Homo sapiens: one gene and its partners. The protein of the gene in region 2 interacts with the protein of the main gene of each other region in a pairwise test. Each region holds a gene or a part of one and is shown on either strand. Other genes may lie near its edges. The genes, in order: PLSCR4, PCSK5, DBF4B and VGLL3.

Region 1 (7,026 bases), on a different chromosome or scaffold from region 2:
CATTTAAGTATTTCAGTAATCCTATGATGTATTATACTACCCAGTTTATGTATAAGAACACTAAGGCTCAAACAGGTTAATTAAATTTTACAGATTTAAGTAGGTGACATATCTAGAATTCAGACTCTGTTTGGTTTCTCTCCAAAACCGCTTCTCTTTTCCCTACAGAAAATAACTTGCTTAGAAATGCAAGATAATGAGTAACCACACTGTAACTCAGCACATCTGTATTCTAGTTCCAGCCCTGTCCTTAGCCAAATGTAACACCTCAGCCATTTAGTAATTTTGAGCCACTCTTTATCTGTGGCAAGGTATGCGTTGTGATGGGTACTCTAAACATATTTAAGTCCCTTCCAATTCTAAAAGCATATGTTTATCTTTAGCATTGCTTTATCTAGTGATAGGTACGTACATTTAGATAAATGTGGTAGGTAAATTTCTAATTAAGTAGATGCAACTGATGGAATCATAATTATTGACTACACATATGTCAATTGTGCTTGACCCACTTATTTAAGCACTAAAAAGTAGTAACCAAAAAGAAAAAATCCTCTATGATTTTCCTTAGGCGAGACAATTTGGTTTCCTCCCTCCCCACTATCTTCTTCCATTCTGGCTGGCAGGGCCAGGGAATATCCTCCCTATGTAGTGGAAGGAGCACACTATGCCATGAAGAGTTAGATCAGAAGCAAGCTGTGGATCAGACTTCCATTCTCTGACCTCTTGTCTGGCAGAGGGGCAACAGAAGCAACAGCAGGTGCATCTGAAGGGTCTCTGCATTGTCATGATTTCTCGGCCCATACAATCAGTGACCCGGAGGACGAAGGGCCTTAGTGTCCGATAGGCATTCCTGGTAAAGTCATCTGTGTCTTCGGTTACAATGTAAACCATCTGGTCTGAGTTGTTTTTAATATCATATCTATTATTAGTTTCAAAACATGTCATCACTAAAAAATAAAATGAGTAAGTCTATATTAGAAACATTTAAAATGGGCCTCAGAAAGTCCTTGTTTAGTATTTCTTAAGGGCTTAAAGCAACATAGCTTTTTTAAAGTTTCAGGTGAAATATGTAGAATTGATTAGAGTACCCCAAAAATCATATTATCTAAAAGTATTTAAGCAATTGTGAAAATTTAAAACATTTCTTTTAAGAAGTTCAGTGTAAACATTAAAAAAATTTTACATAAAAGAAAAGATTGAAACAACCCTTTTGTTTCAATTCCTGGAGTATCTGAATTCAGAAAACTTTAATTATAAAACCATTTAAAAAAATTATACATTTGACCATTAATTAATCAGTTCACGAAACATGCTTGGAGGAGTAGGGTCATTACTAATTACAAACAAGAGAACAAACCAAGAAAAGTCAAAGGCCCTATGTGGTGGCCAAATGAATGTGCACAGCTGGTTTAGTGAGGGTCAGTACTCTTGTAGGATGAACTGAGAACAGGCATCATTTTGACTGAGATCTTTTCTTCTTACTTCCAAAGCGAGGGCACTGCACTACGATTTGGCAGATTTGGATTCTATTTCCAGCTCTGCCACTGATTAGCTGACTGTGGTTTAAATGCTATTTCCTGATCTGGAGGTGATTAGCTGACTGTGGTGTCCCTGGCTAACTCATTTAGTCTCTTGGCTCCTTTTTTTACTCATCTTTGAAAGGTAAATGTGGAGTAGGAACAATGGGTAAAGTGTAGGGCTATTGACCAGATAAAATGTAAGCCCTTTTCAAATCTAAGAGCTTATGATTATATGATGTATAGAAGGATAAAATTATACAAAATAATTCACTTTATTACTTTCTTGAAGATAGGGTAATAGAGCAGTTTTTTTTTCTTTGAGCCACTAAAACATGATCAATATAAAGAAGGAACTAGATATTGGATAATGCAAATTTCCATCTGATTAAAATACTGCTGAGCACTACAAAAATTATACATACTTTCCAGAGGCTCAAAATGCTGAAGAACATGTATGTTGTCCAACTGTTGGGATAAAACAAAGCAATCAGAAGACAGAAATAACAGAACTAAAATACCACTGTAAAATAAACTGATGAAATAGATATTAAAATGCATCAATTGATACCAAAATATATTTTTGAAAGTCAATAGAATCAAAAAAATTTTACCAACTGAAATTAGCTTATCTGCATCTGATCGGATGGATATTAGCAGAGTTGTCCATATTAGAAAAACACTTTCTTTCAGTACCACTTTAAAAAAGTTGTCTGCTATATCAGAAAAACAAAACATCTACTTGCTGTAGTAATCACATCAGAAGAAGCTGTGCTTATAGATTGTTCCTAGATAAGTCCCTACTCACTGGTCTCTCTACATGTCATCCATAGCCTGTAGTTGTTTAGTTAAGTTCAGAACGATTAACACGGACCAGCCATAGAAAAGGGAAGTCTCTCAGTGGCTTAAGGAGAACAAACAAGCCAGGGTGAACCTCACATGGAGTGTCCCCATTTTATATTATTTTACAGGTACCTCCAGCAGAGGTTTATAAACTGACTTGCATTCACTTGATCTACAAAGGCCAGGGTCTTCCCCAAGTGCACACTTTAATAAGGGAAGGGTCTATTACACTAGGAAGCATGTGAACAGGATTAGGGGAAGAGAAAGGAAACATTGTTAGATGGCAACCCATGAAAAGGACGGCTGGGTATATACCATTAGAGAAATTTCTATCTTAGGAATCATTCTAAAGATGAGCAGTTTGATGGGCACATTATCTGTTACATGTGAGAACATTCTAGCAGAAGAAAAGAAACCTTCTTGAGGACACACTGATTATATTTGTATAATTTTACATCATTTAGACCATTAGACCATTCCTAATCCCTGAGCCCAGAACACTGCCTGAAGTGCCATATTTCACCAAACATTGGTTAAGTACATTAATTAATGAAGAATATATGAATGCAGTAATACATGAAATTAAAATAATGTACCTAAACACGAATGTTTTATGGTGTGATTAATTACAGGAGGGTACAAAGGGCACAATCTATGCTTAATTAAAACCTTTTTCTTACATAAAAACACAATGACATAAGGAGACATAAATATGCCTCATAAAATACCAAAAGTGACTACTAAAATGGTTTATAGTCCATTTTAGAAAAGTAGGGTATTAAAATCTAGAAGTGAAAAGTAAAAATATAAACTACAGGCATACTCTGAAGATACTACAAGTTTGGTTCCAGACCAAGGCAATAAAGCAATTATTGTAAGAAAGTGAGTGACATGAATGTTTTATTTTCTTATTGAATCTAAAATTATGTTTACACTATAATGTAGTCTACAGTGTGTGTAAGAGTATTAATCTAAAAGAAGTATATATCTTAATTTTAAAAAACTTTATTGCTAAAAACTGCTAACAATCATCTGAGACTTCAGCTAGTCACAATCCTCTTGCTGGTAGAGGGTCTTGTCTCTATGTTAATGATTGCTAAATGGTCAGGGTGGTGATTGCTGAAGCCCAGGTTGGCGGCAGCAATTTCTTAACAAAAGATAATGAAGTTTGCCATATCAATTGACTGACTCTTCTCTGCATGAAAGATTTCCTTGTAGCACATGATGTTCTTTTTAGTACTTTACCACAGTAGAACTTCCTTCAAAATTGGAGTCAATCCACCTAAAAACTGCCACTGCTTTATCAATTATATTTGTGTAGTATTCTAAAACCTTTGTCATTTCAACAATGTTCACAGAATTCTCACCAGGAGTAAATTTCATCTCAAGGAAGCACTTTCTTTGCTTATACATAAGAAGCAAGTGCTCATCTGTTAAAGTTGTATCATGAGTTACAGTAATTCAGTCACATCTGCAGGTTCCACTTCAAATTCTAGTTCTCTTGCTGTTTCCATCATATCTGAAATTACTTCCTCCACTGAAATCTTGAACCCTTCAAAATCATCATAAAAGTGGCAATCAGCTTCTCCCAAACACCTGTTAATGCTGATATTTTGACCTCTTCCCATGAATCATGAATGTCCTTATTGGCATCTAGAATGGTGAATCCTTTCCACATGGTTTTCAATTTATTTTGCCCAGATCTGTCTGAGAAATGACACCATCTATGGCAACTATAGCCTAACGAAATTCATTTTTTTAACAATAAGACTTGTAAATTGAAATTATACTTTGACCCATGGGCTGCAGAATGGATGTTGTGTTAGCAGGCATTAAAACAACATTAATCTCCTTATACGTCTCCATCAGAGCTCTTGGGTGACCAGATGTGTTGTCAGTGAGTAGTAATGTTTTGCAAGAGACCCTAACAGGGAAGTCAGTCTGTCCTTTGAAGTTTTCACGTCAGGCGTTGACTTCTACTTTTTAGCTATGAAAGTCCTAGAAGGCATCTTCTTCCAACAGAAGGCTGTTGCATCTATATTCAAAATCTGTTGTTTAGCAGAGTCACCTTCATCAATGATCTTGTTATAGTTAGGATCTTCTGAAAAACTTACTGCAGCTTCTACATCAGGACTTGCTGCTTCACCTTGCACTTCTATGTTACAAAAGTGCCTTTTTTCCCCCCTTAAGCCTTGTGAGCCAACCTCTGCCAGCTTCAAACTTTTTTTTTCTGTAGCTTCCTCACCTTTCTCAGCCTACATAGAATTTAGGAGAGATAGGGCTTTGCTCTGAATTATGCTTTGGCTTAAGGAAATGTTGTGACTGGTTTGATCTTCTTTCTAGACCACTAAAACTTTCTCCATATCAGCAATTAGGCTCTTTTACTTTTCACCATTCATATGTTCATTGGAGTAATATCACTTTCAATTTCCTTCAAGAACTTTTCCTTTGCATTCACAGCTTGGCTAACTGGTGCTAGAAGACTAGCTTTTGGCCTATCTCAACTTTCAACATGCCTTCCTCATTAAGCTAAATCATTTCCAGCTTTCTTATTTACAGTGAGAGATGTGCAATTGTTTCTTTCACTTGAACACTCAGAGGCCATCACAGGATTATTAACTGGCCTAATTTCAATATTATTGTGTCCCTTCCTGGAACTCAATAATATGTGTCTGTTAAGGGGTAGTTCTTTGACAAATTGGTAAAGTCACTGGTAAAGCCAAGACTCTGAAAATAATATAATCGTGCTAATTTGGATGTTTTAGGATTCTTGGGAACCTTGATAAAGATTCATGTAATCTTCATGTGAGATCTCAAAAAGACTAGGGTAGATAGAGGAAAAAGATTGGCTCTATGTCTTGCATTCACACATAAGAAGGTATTTAAGCTAATAACAGCCACATAGCTTTCATCCATTGGGACGGCCCTTTATGTCAAAAATATTAGGCACATTGTGACCCTTATCTCATTAAAAATTCTCCTAACAATCTGGTAAGGTAGGTATTGATAATACTATTTTATAGATGATAAAATTCAAGCAGCAAGAGGTTAGAAATTTTATCAAAGTTTTTGAGTTACTAGAGAGTAGGACAGAATTAAAAAACCAGGTTTGCCTGGGTCCAAACCTGTGTTTTGTTTATTTTTTCACTTATTTCTTTAACTCTAAATATTCCTAAAAGGGAAAACTCATAAAATACGTTAAATTAACCTCTGTCAGAATCATAAAAGAAATTAAGAAACAAGTTTTTAATATTTAAATAAACAAAGCTATACAATTTGAAAAGAGAATTGACTGTAGAAGATGTTAGATTCCCAAGAACAACTTCTGTATTTATCACCAAGTATAGAAATGAGACTTTCTAAACTTGATAAGCTACAAACATTTTATTATCTTCTGAAATAATGTAGATGTTTACTCTAGCACTTCACCTGAATGAGTTTTGCATTTTGTCAAAATTTTGTCCAAATAATAATTTAGGATAAATTTTGGCTTTTGTAAAATCCAAATTTTCCTGATCCAACTGTATTGACTTCTATACACCAATGTTATAATATTATACAAATAGTTTTCAGCACACAAGATTATCAGGGTCCCTGTCAATATACAGAATTGAAAAGAGAAATGACAGAACTCGAGGAAATACTTGGCTGTTGACCTGGGGAGGTAAGTATTAAATTGGGAAGTTTCTTCTTTATAATGTATTTCAGCACTTCCTTTTTCTATAAACAACAACAAAAAAGATTCAGAAGGTTCTATGGAATCTCCAATAAAGTAGTCTCCCTCTTATCCTCAGGGGATACTTTCCAAGCCCTCAGTGGATACCTGAAACCACAGATTGTACCAAATCCTGTATATACTATGCACAAATTTTTCTTTTCTTCTTTACAATTTCATGGACATATTAATTTTACTATAGATCTTAGTAACCTTAGCATAGGAATTTTTTTATTATTAAGTAAAAAACCTTCACCTTTACATGGAAAGGAAGACCTTATGGCCTCTCTTTGGTCTTTCCTTGACATATCCAAATTCCCAGCATTACTACTCTTGTGCTTTGGAGACATAATTAAGTAAAATAAGTTACTTCAATGCAAGCACTGTGATACTGTAAGTCAATCTGATAACCAAGATGTGACTCTGGGTCTGTATACTATGGATAACATCTACAGCGTGGATACACTGGACAAAGGAATGATATATGTGCCAGGCAGAACACAGCAGGACTGTGCAAGATTTCATCATGCTACTCAGAATAAATTTAAAATTTATGAATGGTTTATTTCTAGAATTTTCCATTTAATATTTTTGGAACCTGGTTGACCATTGGTAACTGAAACCGCAGGAATCAACGCCACAAATAAAAGGCGTCTACTCTGCCAGCTTTATCTTATTTTCATTAAGCAGGTTTTTTAGTTTCAGACATGGGTTTTTAAACAAAACTATTTGTGCACAAACTTCCCATATTACCCCAGTTTTTGATCTGCATGTCCTGGTGGCAGCAGAATATCTACATAGATGTTAATTAGGGAGTTATTGTGTTGTATGAAGGGGGTCTCTGGAACTTGGCCTGAAGCAATATTCTTTGTAGGGTCCATTATTTTTATTTATATTGTTTGTTTTTGGGGGTGACAAGAGTAGCTAATGAAAATGATGGGTGGTGGTAAA
Region 2 (7,026 bases):
TGTGATCTTGGCTCACTGCAACCTTGGCCTCCTGGGTTCAAGCAATTCTCCTCCCTCAGCCTCCCAAGTAGCTGGGATGACAGGCACGTGCCACCATGCCTGGCTAGTTTTTGTATTTTTAGTAGAGATGGGGTTTCACCCTGTTGGCCAGGCTGGTCTCAAACTCCTAACCTCACCTCCCACCCACCTCGGCCTCCCAAAGTGCTGGGATTATAGGCGTGAGCCACCCTGCCCAGCCTGGCTGGTGTTTTTCAAGAGCTGCCAATGTGTGGCTCTGTGCTGAGTGTTGTAGAAGCAAATGTAAGACGTAAGAGGTGTTTTTCTTCCATGAGTTTATAATTTTCTTGGGAAGAGGCATATAAAAATAAGAATAAACTCTTAAAGTCAGTGATATGGTTTGGTTCTGTGTCTCACCCAAATCTCATCTTGAATTGTACTCCCATAATTCCCATGTGCTGTGGGAGGGACCCTGTGGGAGATGGTTGGATTGTAGGGGCGGTTTCCCCCATGCTGTTCTTGCTGTTGTGAATAAGTCTTACGAGATCTGACGGTTTGATAAGGAGAAACCCGTTTCGCCTGGCTCTCATTCTCTCTCTTTGCCTGCCGCTATCCACATAAGATGTGACTTGCTCCTACTTGCCTTCTGCCATGATTGTGAGGCCTCCCCATCCACATGGAACTGTAAGTCGAATTAAACCTCTTTAGTTTGTAAATTGCCCAGTCTTTGGGTATGTCTTTATCAGCCGCGTGAAAACAAACACAGTCAGTCTTTCTTTTACTCATCTTATTTATACATACAAAGTACTCATCATGAAATGTGTTAAATAAATAAGTGAATGAATGAGATAAATCAAAATGCAAGGCAGCATATAGCACTAAAATGAATGAAACAAGCAGTAACTGCTATAGGACCGAAGAGATGTGTCAATTTGGGTGAAAGCATTTGAGGAAGGTCTAAGGTTACAGCCCTTGATTTGGGTCTGGAAACTCCCAGTGCTCTAGGTTATTGATTGGGTAGAAAGAGTCAGCAACAGGCCTATCATCAATCTTTTACTCTTTACTGGGAATGCCTGGGGGAGAAAAAGGATATGCTGGCAATCAGACCTTCTGATAACACTAACAGTTCTTCCTAGCAGAAAAATAATAGAGTCCTTATCCATGAAATGCTTTTAGAAGGATACATCAAGTGCGTGTGTCTACGTTGTTTATGATAACAAAACCTGTAATTTGTGGATTTATAGGTGACATGACAGGTTGGGGAATTAATGGGGAATAAATGGAGATGTTAATGGAACTATTTCCTTTGTAAATCAATGTTCCACACTCACTGCTCTCCTCACATAAGCAGGTTGGGAGAATGTGAGACCCTGAATTTTAAATCTGAATCAGAACAAGTCCTGAAGGTGAAGAAAAAGAACCTCCATTAATGATCTTGGGCTTCTCTGAGGAAAGGATGCTTTGCTTCTGCCTTGTGATTGCTGAGACCCTTTGCCAAATTGTTTTAATTTTTAGAAACAAGGTCTTGCTCTGTCACTGAGGCTGGAGTGCAGTGGTGCAATCATAGCTTACTGCAGCCTCCAACTCCTGGGTTCAAGTGATCATCCCCTGCCTCAGCTTCTATAGAAGCTGGGACTATAGCCTGATGGCACCATGCCCAGCTAATCTTATTTTAATATTTTACAGATGGGGTCTCAAGATGTTGCCCATACTGGTTCAAACTCCTGCCTTAAGTGATCCTCCAGCCTCAACCTCCCACGTAGTTGGGATTACAGGCATGAGCCACAGTGCCCAGCTGCCAATATGCTTTGAATTTTCAGTAAGGACTGTCGTTGAGGAAGATCAATTGCTCAGGTGAGTCCGGCTTGACAATCTGACCCTTTGTGTTAACTCACTCGGTCACTCTGCCTCTCCTGTTTCTCTTCTGTTACTGTGAATTGGTTCATCTTTGCTCCTTACTAGCACTGAGACTTCAACCTGGTTTTATAAGTGTTCTGAATCTTAGTTTCCTCATTTGTAAAATGGGTTGATATCTGCTGTGGCTGTGAAATTACATGGGGGAAAATGTATTGAGCACTTACCCTTCCCTGCACTGGAGCAGGCACTCTTTTCCTAGCTGGAACCAGCCCGGTCGGCAGGAGTGGCACTGCCTGCTGTGTCTCCCTTCACATGTCCTGCAAGAGCTGTGGCAGTGGGCACACCGGTTGCTGTCCTCATCGGCATAATAGCCCTCTGGGCAGTCCTTCACACAGGTTGTGTCTGTCATGGGAGAAAAAATGTCTATTTGGACATCGAGCATGACACATGTCTCCCCTGTATTTTCCCTCTTGTGTACCATGGCGGGAGGGAGGAGAGGGCTGCAGGAGGAATGGGATGATCCTGTGAGCTGATGGATATGTTTGGGAAATAAGATTAGTGTCCAAGAAACAGAATTGCCCTAAGGCCATGAGGAATACAAGGAAAACAGAAGTCAGTGATATGGTTTGGCTCTGTGTCCCACCCAAATCTCATCAGTGATCCCATCTCATCTCATCAGAGATCCAAATCTCATCTGTGTCCCACCCAAATTTCTCAGTGGATTAGCTGTGGTGGGTAGAACAGAAACTACAGTCCGGCGCCTGTGGATGTTGGCAATGGCTCATTGTCCAGCTCATGTATCTGGTTAACTAGGGGGAAGCCCCAGCTTCCTGAAGGAAAAACACCGCCGTATTAGTCTCTTATTGCTGTTCCTATGAAGTATCCCCAACTTGGGGCCTTGAAACAACAATTTATTATCTTACTGTTCTGGAGGTCAGAAGTCCAAAATAGATCCACAGGGCTCTGTTCCTTTTAGAGGCTCTAGGAGGGAATCTGTTTCCTTTCCTTTTCCACTTGCTAGAGTCCACCTGCATGCCTTGGCTCATGGCCCCTTCCTCTGTCTTCAAAGGCAGCAGTGCAGTAGCTTCTCTCTGTCCCTCTGCTTCTGATCACATCACCTTCTATTACTGACTCTGATCCCCTGGCATCTCTCTTTTTTTTTTTTTTTGAGATGGAGTCTCACTCTGTCGCCCAGGCTGGAGTGCAGTGGCACAATCTTGGCTCACTGCAAGCTCCACCTTCCGGGTTCACACCATTCTCCTGCCTAAGCCTCCCGAGTAGCTGGGACTACAGGCACCTGCCACCACACCCAGCTAATTTTTTGTATTTTTAGTAGAGACGGGGTTTCACCGTTTTAGCCAGGATGGTCTCGATCTCCTGACCTTGTGATCCGCCCACCTCGGCCTCCCAAAGTGCTGGGATTACAGGCGTGAGCCACCATGCCTGGCCCACCCCCGGCATCTCTCTTATCAGACCCTTGTGATGGCATTGGGTCTACGTGGATAATGCAGGATAATCTCTCTATGCCGAGATCCTCAACTAAATCACTGCCCCAAAGTCCTTTACCAAGTAGAGTAATACATTTACAGGATCTGGGGATCAGGATGTGTCATCTTCAGGGGGGCCATTATTCAGTCTACCACGATGTCCAAAAAAAGTATCTAATTTATAAATAGCCTGACCCTGGTGGTGTGGTGGTGTGGGACAGGGTAGAGAGAATGTGAGGATACCAGGCTGAGCAAATCTGCACCCATTTCCCAGGGGGACTACAGCTCTGTGTCCTATACCAGCACTGAAGCCTCAATTCTAGTCTAATCTGCAGCCTCGGATGAGGGGAAGACCACTTTGTGGAGGCAAGCTGTCTTCTCTATATGAAGGCATCTGAGATGATTACTGGTGGCACTCTAGATTGGACGTAAGTAGAAAAGAAGGTCCGACGGGGTGGGATTACCTGGGAGACGTGGCTGGAGGGAATGCTTTTATGAAGCAGCAACTGCTGGGAAGGAGAGTCACAGAGATTTGTGGACCAGGAGCTAAGGTAGATGGATAGAGAAGACTGGTCTCTTTGAGTGTTTTCTATTGTGAAGTGATCAGGAATGGTATTGAGAATAGGTCTCCCTGTGTCTTAGCAGGGGGATGGTGTCCTCGCTCAATATGAAGAGGAAAAGCTTGCCATGCATGTCTTTAAAACATTTTTTTTTAATGTTTAAAATTTTTAAATTTAAAATTTTAATTTTTTTCCATTTTTTGTAGAGATGAAGTCTCACTATGTTGCCTAGACTGGCCTTGAACTCCTGGGCTCAAGCAATCCTCCTGCCTCGACCTCCCAAAGTGCTGGGATTACAGGCATGAGCCACTGCGCCCAGCCTACCACACATGTCTATTTGGAGTTTCACGCTTCTCAGGTCTACTCTCCTGGTGGGGGAGAAAAGTGCTCATACTTCCTGGTCTTCACCATATTCATCTCTCTCTTCTGTCTCCTATGACTTCTTTTTTAGTTAAGTTTTGTTTCATTTTCTTTCTCCCATGCTTGTTTTAAGCCTAGTCACAGTATCCCTGGGAACCTGAGGACATTGTTTCATATTAGCAATAACCTTCAACTCTGATCTGTGGGACCGTGGCCAACCTTGACCTGTGCCACTTTTTGCTCAAGAGGGATTTCTTAATCAACCATGCTAAATGGAGGGGAAATTTTGATGAGGAGCTGAATATCTACATGTTCTTAAAGTGTAACCCCACAGGCTACTTATTAGTTACAAGGGAATAAATAGTAATTATGCAGTAGGGAAACTGAACATCTTGGCCAGGTGATCAACATTAATATCACCGAGGAAAGGCATGTGGAGATCACGTTCCTCCAGGTGTGACTCTCGGAGGATACAACATCACTTCTGAAGTATGCTGGCCAAGCATGCACACTCTGCAACTGATCACGGGCAACTTCACAGTCACCCGAAAGGAAAAATGAAGACTGTATTTTTCCTTTCTTTTCTTTTTTTTCTGAGATAGAGTCTTGCTCTGTTGCCTAGGCTGGAGTGTAGTGGTGCGATCTCGGATCACTGCAACCTCTGTCTCCCGGGTTCAAGCGATTCCCCTGCCTCAGCCTCCCGAGTAGCTGGGACTACAGGTGCCCACCACCACACCTGGCTAATTTTTGTATTTTTAGTAGAGATGGGATTTCATCATGTTGGTCAGGCTGGTCTTGAACTCCTGACCTCATGATCTGCCCACCTCAGCCTCCCAAAGTGCTGGGATTACAGGTGTGAGCCACCGTGCCCAGCCAAGACTGTATTTTTCTAAAGCATTGATATTGTGAAAGAAAAAGAAAGTGTGTGGAAACATTTCATATTAAAGGAGGCTAAAGGGACATGGAAGGGCCTGGCATAGTGGTTCATGCCTGTAATCCCAGCACTTTGGGAGACTGAGGCAGGAGAATAGCTAGAGCCCAGGAATTCAAGACCAGCCTGGGGAACACAGTGAGACCCTTGTCTCTAAAAAGAAAAAAAAATGGCTGGACATGACATGGAAGGGCCAGGCATGGTGGTTCATGCCTGTAATCCCATCCCATCTACTTGGGAGGCTGAGGCAGGAGGATCTCTTGAGCCCAGGAGTTCAAGGCTGCAGTGAACCATGATCGTGCCACTGCACTCCAACAGCCTGGGTACTGCGCCTGGCCAACTTGTCTCTTAAAACAAAAAACAAACAAACAAAAAAGTGGCCGGGCGCAGTGGCTCACACCTGTAATCCCAGCACTTTGGGAGGCTGAGGAGGGCAGACTGCTTGAGGCCAGGAGTTCAAGACCAGCCTGGCCAACATGGTGAAACCCCGTCTCTACCAAAAATACAAAAAAAAAAAAAAATTAGCCGGGAGCGATGGTGCCCACCTGTAATCCCAGCTACTCAGAAGACTGAGGCATGACAATTGCTTGAACCCAGGAGTCAGAGGTTGCAGTGAGCCGAGATCATACCACTGCACTCCACTCTGAGCAACTGAGTGAGACTCCTTCCCAACAAACAAACAAACAAAAAAGGGACATGGAAGCTAAATGAAACAACTGACTCTAGCCTGAATCCTAAAGGGGCACTGAGAAAATTGTAATATGGATAGTATATTAAAGTATTGTATGAATGTACAATTTATTAGAGTTGATAACTATCCTGCGGTTATGTAAGAAAATATCACTAATCTGAGGAAATAGGCACTAAAATATTTATGGGAAAGGGGCCATGATGTATGCCTTCAAATGGCTTCGAAAAATATGTATTGGGAATGATGTACATGTATACATTGAGAGAGTGAGAGGAAGAGAGCGATAGAGAGAGAGAGAATGAGTGAGAAGGGGGGAGAGAGCCCACGAACAAATGATAAAGCAAATGGTGTAGAAGATGAGCAATTTGCGAACTGGATGAAGCACATCCGTGCGCTGTTCTTTGTACAGTTCTTACTCTTGCATCTTTTCTGCAGGTTTGAACATTTCCCAAACACAAAGCAAAAAATCAAAAAGAAAGAAGCCAGTATCTACTGGACAAGGCAGTGTGCAAGGCAGTTTCCCAGAGAGATGGAAACACAAAGCTGTCCTCGGAGAAGTAACTCACTGAGAAGAAGGCTGTTCATGGGGCATGTTTGACACTGGTCCTCCGCCGGCCCCATGCAGTGGAAGCACTTAACATGGCAGGGCTTGCACCCGGGAGCATCCTCATCCCAGTACTCGGAGGGTGAGCACTTCTCGTTGGCCATGCAGCTCCCACGAGGGTTCATGATCAGGCCTTTCTGACAGGTGGTGCAGGTCCCAGATGATGAGCAGGTCAAGCAGGACTTGTGGCAATCTGTGGGCGTGGAGGGGCAGCAGACAGAGTGAGCGAGAGCCAGGGTGGCCCTCGTGGGAATGGCTTCCCCTGGGAAAGGGTCTTCACATTCCTTTCACATTTCTTCCGGAGATTTCCAGAGCTCTGGGCCAATGGTGTGGGGCCATGAGTTGAGTACAGCCCTTGAGCTCTGGGGTGGACCATTCTTTTGCAAAATGAGAGAAAATTATTATTTTATTTTCTCTGTTGTATCCAGAGAGGGCTTTCCTGCAATAGCCATCTCAGAAATATTAGTAAGGCTCACTATAATTACCCAAACTGCAACAAAATAATAACAAGCCATTCTGTAATGGCATCGAATTTTCCA
Region 3 (7,570 bases), on a different chromosome or scaffold from region 2:
CAGCTACCACGCCCGGCTCTGTTTTTTGTATTTTTAGTAGAGACAGGGTTTCACCACGTTGCCCAGGCTGGTCTTGAACTCCTGATCTCAGGTGATCCGCCTGCCTTGGCCTCCCAAAGTGCTGGGATTACAAGTGTGAGCCACCACACATGGCCTGCCTTTTAAGCTATGTCAAGAATCAAACAGGAAGCCAGGTGTGGAGACATGCACCTGAAGACATAGCTACTTGGGAGACTGAGGCAGGAGATTGGGAGACTGAGGCAGGAGAATTGCTTGCACCCAGGGCTTTGAGGCTGCAGTGAGCTATGATTGTGCCACTGTACTCTAGCCTGGGTAACAGAGCAAGTTCTTGTCTCTAAAATAAAATAATAATTTAAAAAAATTTAAAGAATCAATCTGGAGGCCAGGTGTGGTGGCTCACGCCTATAATCCCAGTATTTTGGGAGGCTGAAGCAGGTGGATCATGAGGTCGGGAGTTCAAGACTAGCCTGACCAACATGGTGGAACCCTGTCTCTAGTGAAAATACAAAAATTAGCCGGGCATGGTGGCGTGCTCCTGTAATCCCAGCTACTCAGGAGACTGAGGCAAAAGAATTGCTTGAATTCTGGAGGCAGAGGTTGCAGTGAGCCGAGATGGTGCCACTGCACTCCAGCCTGGGCGACAAAGCGAGACTCTGTCTCAAAAAAAAAAAAAAAAAAAAAAAAAAATCAAACTGGAATAAAAACGAAAATAAAAACCCTCTAAAATCCACACATTATCATCTTATAGTAAATTTTAAGAACAAATATAAAAATGTATAATCTAAAATATTGGGCTGGGTGCAGTGGCTCACTCCTGTAATCCCAACACTTTGGGAAGCTGAGGAGGGTGATCGCTTGAGCCCAGGAGTTGAAGACCGGCCTGGGCAACATGGCAAAACCTCGTCTCTACAAAACAAACAACAAAAAAAAATTAGCTGGGCGTGGTGTTGAGTGCCTGCAGTCCCAGCTACCTGGGAGTCTGAGGTGGGAGGATCACTTGATCCCGGTGAGGCCAAACCTGCAGTGAGCCATGATTGCTCCACTGCACTCCAGCCTGGGTGCAAGACCTCAAAATAAATAAAATAAAACATTTTTTTCTTTCATCAATATAATCCATAGGTTCACATAATCTAAAACATCTAATGAGAAAAGGAGGTCACTTACAAAGCAGCAAGAATAAAAAAGAAATGCTGAAGAAAACAAGGAGAAAATACTGTAATTTTTCAATGTGTTGAAGGAAAAAAAATTGACTTAAATTTTACTACAAGGCTGAAATAAATATATTCTTAGTTTATCACACAAAGCCTCCTTTTGAAAACACTCTTGAAGTTCTCCAGAGAAACAGAAGGGGGAAAAAAAACCAACAAGAGATGGGAAGAATGAATAACTCAGTAAATGAAGTGGATTACTGTTTAAAAGGCAACAAGCCGATGGCATATCTGTTAACAATCCAGAAGTAAAAGTAGACGGTATTTTTTTTTTCTTTTTTTTGAGACGGAGTCTCGCTCGGTCGCCCAGGTTGGAGTGCAGTGGCGCAATCTCGGCTCGCTGCAACCTCCGCCTCCTGGGTTCAATCAATTTTCCTGCCTCAGCCTCCTGAGTAGCTGGGACTACAGGCACGCCTCACCACGCCCGCCTAATTTTTTGTATTTTTAGTAGAGATGGGGTTTCACTGTGTTAGCCAGGATGGTCTCAATCTCCTGACCTCGTGATCCGCCCGCCTTGGCCTCCCAAAGTGCTGGGATTACAGGCGTGAGCAGCCGCGCCCGGCCAACTAGATGATATTAACTAAAGGGGCAGTACGGAGGGAAGTGCCATGTGCTAAAATACTTACCTAATTAGGTAGCAGTGTTTAACTTAAGGATTTTATTGTAAACAACTATGAATGTATTAATTTATATATTTAATAAGTCACTCTATCCTGACTCCACATCTGTCTGTTAATCTTGTTCATAATATGACTCTTACTTGACCTTTATCATGAATCCCAAAACGGTCTATGATGCTGCGTCCATACACACACACACATAAAACCACTAAGTGGGCCTGGTGAAGTGGCTCACACCTGTAATCCCAGCATTTTGGGAGGCCTAGGCAGGAGAACTGCTTGAGGCCAGGAGTTTGAGACCAGCTTGGCCAACACAGCAAGACCCCATCCCAATAAATAAAATGAATAAATAAGTACATAAAAACACTGAGTGATCGAAAACTCCAACAGGGGGAACATTTTTCGGTCTTCTCCAAGAGACCCTGGGGCAATTTTCACCTCACGTCCCTAGTTCTGTCCTGTTACCCACCTAGGTCCGGGGCCCGGAGCCTACTCTCAGCCATGGAACTCTCCAGCTCGAGGCAATCGTCTCCTGAGAAAGGACATAACAGCAACTCAACCATCTTCACCAACCCTTGGAACTTCCATGCCTCCCGCCCACTACTGTCTCCCAAAACGCGCACAGAAACGCGACTCCTGGGAACAGCAAGACTCAACTCCATTCCGACCTACATCCCGCGACTCCCGCCAGGCTCTTGCCCCTCATGCCCTCCGCCTCCTTTCAGACTCCGTTCAGTCAACGGCCGTGACCTCTTGGCCACCTCCTGTCCATCTCAATCTCCATACATCCCTCCAGGCTGTTGTCCCCTACGTTCCTCTGCCACCTTCATTCCTCGGTCCCCTCAACTCCTGTGGCTCCTTCCCGGCCCCTATACCCTCCTCAGCTTCGGCACCTACCCGCTGGTCACTTCCTAAGCCCCCTCCACGACTCCGCACCTCGCCTCAGCTATTAACGACCCCTTCCGCCTTTCTTTCTCCCCTTCCCGGCATCCGTACCCTTTCCCGGTTCGCTCATCAAATGCCGGCTCCTTCTCGGCCTCCGTACTCCTTCCTCAGAGGCCTCCGTATTACATTCGCGAGCTCCATGAGCTCTTCCCGATTCCACAGTCCTGGTTATCTCAGGGCAGCTACAGCATCAATCTCTTGGCGTTTTCGGCCGCGGCTTCAGTTTAAATTTCCTGCCGGCTCCACCCCTAAAAGAACGCCGTAGCTGCGAGATCCGCCCTACGGTGTCCTTGGAAGGACAATATTAGTTTCGCGATTCCTCTTTCCGTTCCCCCACCGCCTACGTCTTCTCAAACCGTCTCTTCATTTCTTGGCTCTTCACTGGCTAGACGGCTTTGCCCCTTAATGGCCCTCAAGTTGAGGACTAGTGGTCGCTTTTTAGTGATTCTTCACACTGAGCTGCATTGAAATTCCTAGAAGTTTGAATACTAAATAACAAAATAAGCCTAACACTTGCAGAGCATTTGCAGTTTACATAAAGATTTCACTTACACATCATTTCATCTTCACATTTTTGTCCCCCTCCCGTTCTTCAATTATTACCTGCCCAACAAAACTTCTCAAAAGACGTATCTTTATCCCTCACTTCCCATCTTTTCTTCAACCCATCTAATTAGACTGCTAATTAGAGATCAAATTTGATCTAATAAGAGATCATTCAGTGGAGAGCTGGGGACCTCCCCACAAAAACTGTACTTATCCAGGTCAACTGTGATTTCCACAGTCTGAAATACTATCCTTATCATATCCAACTTATAGATGGACTATTCCTTCTTTGAAATACTTTCTTCTTTTTGCTTCCATGACTCAGCACTCTACCGTTTTTTTCCCTATCTCAATGGTTCCTCCTCAGTCCCCTTTGCTGGATCCAAAGCCACTGTTCACCTATATATTTTGGAGTATGCCAACGCTTTAGCCCTTATCCCTCTCCCTTATCTCCCTAGGAGATCTCATCCAGCTCCACAGCTTTACAATTCAGCTCTGCCACACCTTCAGATTTTCTGTAGCTCTGACCTGTCTGATCTCCAGACTCACATATTCAAGTGCCTACTGGCTATTTCAATTTGGATGTCTAATAGGCACCTCAGGCTGAACACATTCAAAACAGAACATTTGTTTCGCTGCCCCTGTCAAAAAACCACCTGTTCTCCCCCCAGGTCTTCCCCTCTCAGTAAAATGTTACTGTTTACTCAAATGTCACAATCATTCACCCAGTTGCTCAAACCAAAAACCTAGAAGTTGTCTTTCAGTACTTTCCCTTGTGCCCATCCCCACTCCAAGAAAAAAATCCTACTAACTCTGCCTCCAAAGTACATCTGGAATCAGACCACCACCACCCTAGTTCAAGCTGCTATCATTTCTTGCCTAAAGTACTGCGGTCAATTCTTCACTTCTACTCCCGAGTAGCTTCCTATCTCTCCCCAGTATAATCCATTCTCCATTCAGCAACCAGAGTGATAGTTTTTATATTTATTTATTTTTTTATTGAGAGGGAGTCTCGCTCTGTCGCCCAGGCTGGAGTGCAGTGGCGCAATCTTGGCTCACTGCAACCTTTGCCTCCCGGGTTCAGGCCATTCTCCTGCCTCAGCCTCCCGAGTAGCTGGGATTACAGGTGCCTGCCACCATGCCCGGCTAATTTTTGTATTTTAGTAGAGTCGGGGTTTCACCAGGTTGGCCAGGCTGGTCTCGAACTCCTGACCTCAGGTGATTCATCCGCCTCGGCCTCCCAAAGTGCTGAGATTACAGGTGTGAGCCACCGCGCCTGGCCCAGGGTGATATTTTTTAAACACTGGTAGAGGTATATACAGTACATAAACTTGGTATCTCTTCCAGTGGGACTCCTCCCTGAGGAAGCTTATACATCTCAGCCCTGATGAACGAACGAAGCCTTGGCCATATGACTTGCTTTGGCTCATGAAAAAAGAAAAAAGTGACATCACTTCCAAGCAGAAACTTTAAGAGGCAAGATGGTTCAGCATGTTCTTTTTTCACATGTGTGACAGAATTTGTATAATAAAGGTATCTGCCTCAGCATTGTTTGCAATACCAAAAGATCAAAAGCAACGAAAATATTGATTAACAACGGGCAGTAGGTTAAATAAATTATGGTGTAGTCATACTGTGCAACACTATGCAACTCCAAAAAATGAAAATACTTTAAAATATAAATGTATTTAGGGAATCCTAGCCAGAGCAATCAGCAAGAAAAAGAAACAAAAGGCATCCAAATAGGTAAAGAGAAAATCAAATTATCTCTGCTTACTGATGATATGATTCTATAGCTAGAAAACCATGAGGACTCCACCAAAAGGCTCCTAGACCCAATAAATTACTTTAATAAAATTTTAGGATTAAAAAAAAGTCAACACACAAAAATCAGTAGCATTTCTATACACCAATAACGTTCAAGCTGAGAGCCAAATCAAGAATGTGATCTCATGTACAACAGCCACACACACAGGCTGGGCATGTTGGCTCACACCTGTAATCCCAGCACTTTGGGAGGCTGAGGAGGGTGGATCACTTGAGGCCAGGAGTTCGAGACCAGCCTGGCCAACATGGTGAAACCCCATCTCCACTAAAAATACAAAAATTAGCCTGGAGTGATGGTGTGCAACTGTAATCCCAGCTATTCAGGTGGCTGAGGCACAAGGATCACTTGAGCCCAGGAGGCGAAGATTGCAGTGAGCCAAGCTCACACCACTGCATTCCAGCCTGGGTGACGAGACTCTGTCAAAAAAAAAAAAAAAAAAAGCGCCAGCCGGGCATGGTGGCTCACACCTGTAATCCCAGTACTTTGGGAGGCCGAGGCGGGCAGATCACGAGGTCAGGAGATCGAGACCATCCTGGCTAACATGGTGAAACCCCGTCTCTACTAAAAATACAAAAAATTAGCCAGGTGTGGTGGCTGGTGCCTGTAGTCCCAGTTACTTGGGAGGCTGAGGCAGGAGAATGGCATGAACCCGGGAGGCAGAGCTTGCAGTAAGACGAGATCACCCCACTGCACTCCAGCCTGGGCAACAGAACGAGACTCTGTCTCATTAAAAAAAAAAGAGCCACACACACAAAACAATCCCTAGGAATACATCTCACCAAGGAGGTGAAAGATCTCTACAAGAACTATAAAACACTGCTGCTGAAAGAAATAATAAAAGACACAAACGAATAGAAAAACATTCCATGATCATGGATTGGAAGAGTCAATATCATTAGAATGTCCATACTGCCCAAAACAATCTACAGATTCAGTGCTATTCCTATCAAATTACCAATGTAATTTTTCACAGAATCAGAAAAAAAAACTATTCTAAAATGCATATAGAATGAAAAAAAGAGCCTGAATCGCCAAAGCAATCCTAAGCTAAAAGAACAAAGCCAGAGGCATTACATTACCTGACTTCAAACTAAACAAGGCTACAGTAACCAAAACAGCATGGTAGTGGCATAAAAATAGACACATAGACCAATGGAACAGAATAAAGAACCCAAAAATAAAGCTGTACACCTATGAGTAATGGGGAAAGGACTCCCTGTTCAATAAATGATGCTGGGAAAACTGGTTAACCATATGCAGAAGAATGAAACTGGACCCCTACCTCTTACCATATACAAAAATTAACTCAAGGTGGATGAAAGACTTAAATGTAAGACATCAAACTAAAAATTCTGGAACAAAACCTAGGAAATACTGTCTAGATATCAGCCTGAGTCCTCAAAAGCAATTACGACAAAAAAAAAAAAAATTGACAACTGGCACCTAATTAAACTAAAGAGCTTCCAAAGCACAGCAAAAGAAACTATCAATGAAGTAAACAACCTACAGAATGGGAGAACATATTTGCAAACTATGCATCTGACAAAGGACTAATATCCAGAATCTATAAGGAACTTAAATAAATCAACGACAACAAAAAAACCTAATTAAAAAGTGGGCAAAGGCCAGATGCAGGGGCTCATGCCTGTAATCTCAACACTTTGGGAGGCCAAGGTAGGAGGCTTTACTTGAGCTCAGGAGTTCAAGGTCAGCCTGGGCAAAATAGGGAGGCCCATCTATATAAAAATTTTTTTAAATTAGCTAGGCCTGGTGGCATATGCCTGCAGCCCCAGCTACTTGGGAGGCTGAGGTAGGAGGATCACCTGGGCCAGAAGGTCAAGTCTGCAGTGAGCCAAGATCATGCCACTGCACTCCAGCCTGAACGACAGACCAAGACCTTGTCTCAAAAAAAAAAAAAAAAAAAAAGGCAAAAACATGAGCAGACATATCTTAAAAAAAGACATACAAGTGGCAACAAACATGAAAAAATGCTTAATATCATTGATCATCAGAGAAATGTAAATTAAAACCACAATGAGATACCATCTCATACCAGTCAGAATGGCTACTATTAAAAAGCCAAAAGATAATAAATGTTGGCCAGTCTATGGAGAAAAGGTAATGCTTATATACTGTTGGTGAGAATGTAAATTAGTTCAGCCCCTGTGGAAAGCAGTGTGATTTCTCAAAGAACTAAAAATAGAACTATCATGTGACCCAGCAATCCCATTACTTGGTATATACCCAAAGGAAAATAAACCATTCTACCAAAAGGACACCTGCACTATGTTTATTACCACACTATTCACAGTAGCAAAGACATAGAAACAACCTAGGTACCCCGTGAATGGTGGATTGGATAAAGTAAATGTGGTACATATACACCATGGGATACTATACAG
Region 4 (7,026 bases), on a different chromosome or scaffold from region 2:
TTTTTTTTTTAGATAGAGTCTCACTCTGTCACACAGGCTGGAGTACAATGGCATAATCTCGACTCACTGCAACCTCCACCTCCCGGGTTCAAGCGATTCTCCTGTCTCAGTCTCCTAAGTAGCTGAGATTACAGGTGGCTGTCACCTTGCCTGGCTAATTTTTTGTGTTTTTAGTAGAGATGGGGTTTCACAATGTTGCCTAGGCTGGTCTCGAACTCCTGACCTCAGGTGAACTGCCCGGCCGCGGCCTCCCAAAGTGCTGAGATTACAGGCATGAGCCACCACGCCCAGCTAGTTAGGTTTTCTTAATGGAAAGAAATGAAATTCTTTCAACCCTGTTAGAATATATAGCAGGATTAGAGGTAACTGATAAGACATTGTGCCAAGTAAAATACATATACTTCCTATCATTGTTTGCCTTACAGCTGAAAAACACCTAAAAAAACTTACCTAGCTTCATGAAGGAGATATACATTCAAAGTATAACCATTCTTTCATTATTAGCTGACACACTATTCTTTGTCTAAAGATTTACCGTGTAAATATATTCTTAGTCAAACACGATTCAGTTATTAAATTTGTTTGTAGCATGGTAGCACTTCTGTGGCACTGTAATAACTTTATGCTGTAAACTAGACCCTTTAATACTCGGTCAGCAGTTCCTTTCTAAGCATCATTGCCATGGCCACTAACATTATCATTAGCCTTTAGTATCTACTATTATCTAAGACTGTGTGTTTTGTACCAAAAACACAAAGTTCCAGAAAACAATGTTCCTGGATAAAGGCTCAGGGTTTGTTTTCTATGTGTCAAATGAGTGGAAACTTACTTAAGGAAGAGAGAAAAGGCATCTGGCTTTCATTTAGCACCTTGAGTCAAGCTCTATGCTAAATTATTCATATACATTATTTAAAAATCTTTACAATAACTCTATGAGATGGGTATCAATAAACACATATTACAGTTGAGGAAGTTGATGTAAGAGATTTCAATTTAGTAATCCAAGATCACATTGCAACCAGAAGGTAAAGGCTGGAACATGAATCTAAAACAAATGGACTCCAAAGACTGTATTTTCCAATCCTGTGTAGCTTTGCCAATTAATATTAAATTGTCACCAACTCTCTCATTTTATGAGAATAAAAATGTGAGTCTCATTTTATTGAACCTCTTCTTTAAGACATTTTCTATATTTTTAATTATCGTTTGTGGCTTTCCTATAAATCCTACACAAGTTTTATATATTTATCTAAATCTGTCTAATTCACAACTTAAGACAATTATGACAAAGATCTAAGAAAAGCAAATAATACCTTTGAAATTACAGAACTTTACAGAAGAAAATATTTTTACCAATTATTTAATTTAACCCCCTTATTTTATAAATTAAAAAAAACTGTACCCAAAGAGTTCATATAACTTATTACCAAGAAATTTTCTATTAAAGACTCTTGTTTTCTAATTCCGGATACATGGTATGAAATTGGTTCATTTAATTCAGTCACTTAATCATTCAATGCATATCTATTTCAGATTTTCCACATAGAAACACATTGTTGTGAGCATCAGAAAAAATGAGGCACCATAAGAAGATATGGTATTTGTAGACTTAGTGGGATAATAGGAGATGAAAATTGAAGCGCATGCTGTGTGCTCCTGGTATATGCTGATAAACTGATGTAAAAAGCTCTAAAACAGTGGGGCGCGGTGGCTCACATCTGTAAGTGTGGCTCCGAGCACTTTGGGAGGCCGAGGCGGGCAGATCACCTGAGGTCAGGAGTTCAAGACCAGCCTGGCCAACATGGTGAAACCCCGTCTCTACCAAAAAAATACAAAAATTAGCTGGGCATGGTGGAGGGTCCCTGTAATCCCAGCTACTCAGGAGGCTGAGGCAGGAGAATCGCTGGAACTGGGGAGGCGGAGGTTGCAGTGAGCCGAGATCGCACCACTGCACTCCAGCCTGGGTGACAAGAGCGAAACTCCATCTCAAAAAAAAAAAGTTCTAAAGCATCTGTTCTCCACCTATTACTTTGCATTTCATTCACCTCACACCAGCATCTTTGCTTCTCATTGAATATTCTAAGCTCAGTCCATCTTCAGGGCCTTTGCACTATCTGTCCCTTCTGTGTAGAATTACTTTCCCCTAGGTAACCACATGATGAGTATTCTTATTTCCTTCAGCTATCTGCTCAAACATAACTGTGCCACACAGGGCTTTTGTTATCACCTTATGTAAAATAACATATTTTGTAACAATTGTTTGTTTCCTGTTTCTACCCTAAAAGCTCCATGAGGGTAGAGCCTTGGGCTGTCTCAGGACTTAGCACATTGCCTAACACATAGCAGGAGGTTAATAAATGTTTGCTGAATATGTCAATGAATAAAACAGGAGACATATTTGAAGATCAAATTTAAGATAGTTCCAAGAAAACTTTAGTAGTAGTTATGAAAACATTGCCTTTATTAACCCTTTCTATGCTACAGTTTAACATCTGCTAAAGGAACTTGTGTAATGTGTTTTGCAAATTACAGAGAAAATGCTGATGTGTTGTAGGGTTTCTGCACATTCACAACATCCCACTAAAAATTATTTTGAATATGATTCTATAGACAATCACTCTCACACCAAGAAATAATTTGGGACATTAATTCTGATTTTTCAGTTTAAATGATAGCAAGGTTGCATATGCCCATGTGCTAAAAGAAGTAGACATTATATTTATTACTCTCCTGGCACTGATTATCTTAATAGGATTCATTATTGATATATCAAATTATTTATTAAAGCCATCTAACTCACTAATGTTTTCCTATTTTCTTCCTCTACAAATTATTAAAATTATTCATCACGTCCTGTTAAATAGGACATTAGTCTATTACATAAGCATCATAGGCTTCCAAGGACTAAGTCTCAGTTCTCATAGTAAGCCCATATTATTTACTAATCAAATAACTAGTATGTTTTTCAGTTCATTTCCATCAAGGCCTTGGATATTTTATTTGTATTCCACCTTCCCCTTTATAGTCACTGTTTAGTGTTGTTTATATTTACTAAAAAGAAAAGTAAAGAAGCAAAGAAAAAAAAGAAGGAGAGGAGAGGAGAAGAGGCAAACAGGGAGGGAAGGAAGGAGAGAGGGTAAGAAGGGAGGGAGGGAGAGAAGAAAAGAAAGGTCAAGTAGGTAAGAAAAGATCAGGCCCAGCAATTCCATGTGGCCAGGACTTCTACAGTAGAGCAGAACCATTCCTGTGCTGCCCAGAAGGTACCACTAGTCACTGCTCACTGCTCACCTGGCCCTGCCCACAGGTAGCCAGCTTTTCCTCATGATAGGAATTACCCAGAGCCCTTGTTAAAGTGTGATTCCCACACCTTCCTATGAAGATTCTAGTTCAATAGATTCGAGATAAGGGGGTCCTGCAAACTGTCCTTAACAGGACTAGATCAATGATTATCAAACTCTGCACTGGAGTCACTGGGAGGGCTGGTTAAAACACAGATTGCCCCACCCCAGAGCTTCTGATTCTGCAGGTCTGGGGTGGAGCCCAAGAATTCGCACTTCTAACAAGCTCCCATGTGGCACTGATGTTCCTGGTCAGGAAAATCACACCTCGAGAACCATTTTACTAGATCATTCCTATAACCAGGTGAATTTGGAAGAAATCACCACTGTAGCAAATTTCTCTGAAGCTGTCATTGGAATGACGTATTATGTTTTTATCTAACCCTGTAATTACCCTGATTTAGATGTCACCAATAATTTTCTATGAGTCAGAAATCAGTTTCAAACACATCTCTGTGAGCTCGATACAGAGAGAAATAAAGGAGTCCAATGTGCTGCTCTTTCTTTATCAAGGTAAAAACACTAGTTTAAGCCATGTGGATGCTGCCAAAATGCCTAGAGTGTATACTATAAAGAGTTAATACAATAACAAATCAGGATAAAGAAGCCTATTCAAAGAACACAGACAGCTTTCAATGTCTGTATTCCTGGGTCAGACTCAGGTCTCTGGTATGTCACCACATAGCACCTATTGGAATGAGCAAGAGCTAATTTTTTAAAAGCTGATTTAGACACGCCTATTATTTAGAGATCCAAATTGGGCCACTGGGGCTTTAGGAATGGTACTTCGCAGCTCAGTGCAGCCACTATAAACTCAAGCCGGTTGTATCACTACTTTCCATGAGGAATTTAAGGGGTGTGACTGCATCCTTTCCAACCCTACATTCCACATGTGACAAAACCGATCCAGCTGTTTGTCTGAAAGAAATTCCTCACTGTCCTTAAATATTAAAAAGCAAGTGGATATCCATCCTCAGGGGCAAGTCTCCAGCTGGAACCTGGTACAGGCAGTTGCGAAACAAAGACAGTGCCCTGGAGAACATCTGCTTTTGAATTCTTACCTCGCCATAGGGGGGTTAGCCCCATCTTGCTTTTTGAAATGGCAGATTCTGGATGGAGGGTGATGGCTTGGCCCAAAGCTCTTGAGAAGTGTTCATCCACTACTGACCCAATGTCTCCCTGGAAATAAGTGAAAAGGACACAGCGAGAGTTAAGGTACTCCATCTCGGCAGGCTGGTCTTTCTCCTCCTCCTCCTCCTCCTCATCCTCCTCCTCTTGTTTGCTGGGAAGGGTGACTTCCAGAGAGTCCTGCATCTTGCTGAATACCGCTAACTTCTTCTGGGATGGAATAAACAAAACACAGTATCAAAGACAGTTTGTAGAAAAGCATTCACTAGTTAAGTTTTCACTTTTTTAAAAAAAGAATCTAAATATTAACATATGTTTGCAAACTGATTCTTCTTCATCTGTTTTACTCCATCTTTTTCCTCCCCAAACCAGTTGCCTCCTTCCCACACTAAAAAAAATACAACAAAAACTCTGTGATTCTACATTTGGCAAACGAACATAAAAGCCCATTATCAAATAGTATATTTTCAATACAAGATTTTGTTTTTGCTTTTGTTTTTGTTTTGCTTTTTGTTTTTTCATCTAGCTAGGCCAACAGGAGAATTACTTTTTTAAAAAGTTTTTCTTCCCAGTTTTGGTTTATTTTTAAAAATGCAATGTACAGCAGTGTTATGGTTTAGGACAGAGAGGAATGACTGTCTGGGGGTGGAGTGGAGAAGAAAAGAACTTTTCATAAATAAAATAAACTAAAATAAAAACAGGAATGTAGCATCTTATAAAAGGATTTGGCAGATGTGCTGAACTCATGTCTTCAAAAATCAAACTAAAATGGCAAAATAAGTCTGTGTGAAGATGCATTTTGCATGGAACATATTTTTTAGATGTTCCGTTTACCACCATTATCATGAGGGGAAAAGATTTCATTATGGCTTAGTGAAAATATTACAAAATACTAGTAGTGGGTTAATCTTTCAATTAAAAATGAGAAAGATTTGTTAATTTAAAATGTTTAAAAATATAATTCTAATAATAATATACATTATTTCAGACATGTTTCTAAAACTTTATATTTATCACCTCACTTAATCTTTACAATTCTATAACATGGCTATTAATACTATCCATATTGTAAAGATTAAAAAGCTAAAGCACAGAAAAATTAAGTTACTTGCCAAAAGTCACAAATCATGTAAGCTGCAGAGTCAGAATGCATAAGAAAAACATACAGGTATAGACATGTGTGTGCATATATATGTTCTGAGGAATGGCAGGGAGGGATATCTAGCATATAGATATGCGTGTGCATACATTTGGTGGGGAAAGGCAGGGAGGGATATCTAGAGTAAAAAAATTACAAAAATGTATTTTGTATTGTTTTTCTGTGTAATACGTTTATAGTTAATTGTCATTTTCTTATTTCTGCTTTTCAGTATTTCCAAACATTTTTCACTGAGCACATATTCCATTTATTATCAACTTCAATGCGAATTACATATAAGGAGATAATGCTAAAGATATGAAATGTATTATTCTAGTGACGAAATGAGCTTTCTCTGTCATCTTTATGTCTGCAAAACCTGATCCTTGATCATACCTTTTTTTTTTTTTTACTTTGAAAAAAACGCATGCTGGAAAATGAATGTGAGTAGAAATAGATAAATCACTCCAGAATACCCAGTAATTTTTCAAATGTTAGCAAAATACATACCCCAGACTCTATATTTCTAATGTAATTACTAGCTTCAATATCTATAGCTTCAAATTATAAATGCACCATTCAATAAATTGGTCCCTTTCCCCTAGCAGTGAATATGTTGTTCTTGTATAAGGTGAGTACTGAAATATTCAGAAATACTATGAACTTCTAGTTATCGTTTCAGGATGGTTATTTATAAATATGTGTTTTGCTTTTATTTAAAATTCGTATCAGTATGGTTATGATTTGTTGATGAATAGATAATTCATACTTTGTAAGTGAATGTGCCTTGCTGATGAATAGATGATTGCTTTTATTTCTCATAATCTACCTCTGCACAGATTTGAACATGTTTATATTTAACTTCAATAGTATAAACACCATAGAAACATATGGTATGTGTAAAATGAGGGAATCGAACTAAATAACCTCTAAAACTATTCCTAGTTTTAAATTCCATTAAAAAATTAAATGAATATTATGATTTATTAGTCAAATCACAGTGCTGCTTCTTCGGGTGCATGTGTATTTACCTAAAACATGTATTGTTTTAACCATATGCACACACTCTCTGCTGAATATTCGGGCACATTAGAAAGCAGCTCTGTTTTTCTATGAAAAAAAAAAACCCTAAAACCTATCTACATGGTGGCATCATTGTCCACAAGTGTTCATTCTTATCCGTGAAACTAATTTCTTTTTTCTGTTAATGTCCAGCTCAGCATCAGTTTGTGAGAGTGGGGCTTTGCATATAAATGCTTTATTTGTTTAATTGTAACATTCATTCTTTAAATAGAAGAGCCTGGCTACATTAACAATCCAAATAAAGTCAAAGTTTTATTTTATCCTTAATTGACAGCAATTAATTCTTAGATGAAATAAAATTGAAGTTATATATATGTAAAGGATTTGAAGGCCATGAAT

The links.
Region 1: the proteins of PCSK5 (region 2) and PLSCR4 interact in binary tests that used the Homo sapiens proteins (3 or more experiments, as listed by UniProt).
Region 3: the proteins of PCSK5 (region 2) and DBF4B interact in binary tests that used the Homo sapiens proteins (3 or more experiments, as listed by UniProt).
Region 4: the proteins of PCSK5 (region 2) and VGLL3 interact in binary tests that used the Homo sapiens proteins (3 or more experiments, as listed by UniProt).

What each region holds. Positions count from the first base shown.
Region 1 is NC_000003.12:146,199,093-146,206,118, forward strand, and holds part of PLSCR4 (phospholipid scramblase 4), read right to left. Parts: intron 1,986-7,026; coding exon 1,943-1,985; intron 948-1,942; coding exon 721-947; intron 1-720. UniProt on the Homo sapiens protein: Catalyzes metal ion-induced ATP-independent rapid bidirectional and non-specific movement of phospholipids (lipid scrambling or lipid flip-flop) between the inner and outer leaflet of the plasma membrane and participates in the redistribution of phospholipids between membrane leaflets.
Region 2 is NC_000009.12:76,327,663-76,334,688, reverse strand, and holds part of PCSK5 (proprotein convertase subtilisin/kexin type 5 isoform 3 precursor), read right to left. Parts: exon of another isoform or gene 6,681-7,026; coding exon 6,450-6,680; exon of another isoform or gene 6,319-6,449; intron 3,770-6,318; exon of another isoform or gene 3,136-3,769; intron 2,257-3,135; coding exon 2,079-2,256; intron 1-2,078. UniProt on the Homo sapiens protein: Serine endoprotease that processes various proproteins by cleavage at paired basic amino acids, recognizing the RXXX[KR]R consensus motif. Likely functions in the constitutive and regulated secretory pathways.
Region 3 is NC_000017.11:44,704,115-44,711,684, reverse strand, and holds the start of DBF4B (protein DBF4 homolog B), read right to left. Parts: upstream 3,021-7,570; 5' UTR 2,865-3,020; coding exon 2,846-2,864; intron 2,834-2,845; exon of another isoform or gene 2,747-2,833; intron 2,386-2,746; exon of another isoform or gene 2,382-2,385; coding exon 2,319-2,381; intron 1-2,318. UniProt on the Homo sapiens protein: Regulatory subunit for CDC7 which activates its kinase activity thereby playing a central role in DNA replication and cell proliferation. Required for progression of S and M phases.
Region 4 is NC_000003.12:86,974,127-86,981,152, forward strand, and holds part of VGLL3 (transcription cofactor vestigial-like protein 3), read right to left. Parts: intron 4,677-7,026; coding exon 4,400-4,676; intron 1-4,399. UniProt on the Homo sapiens protein: May act as a specific coactivator for the mammalian TEFs.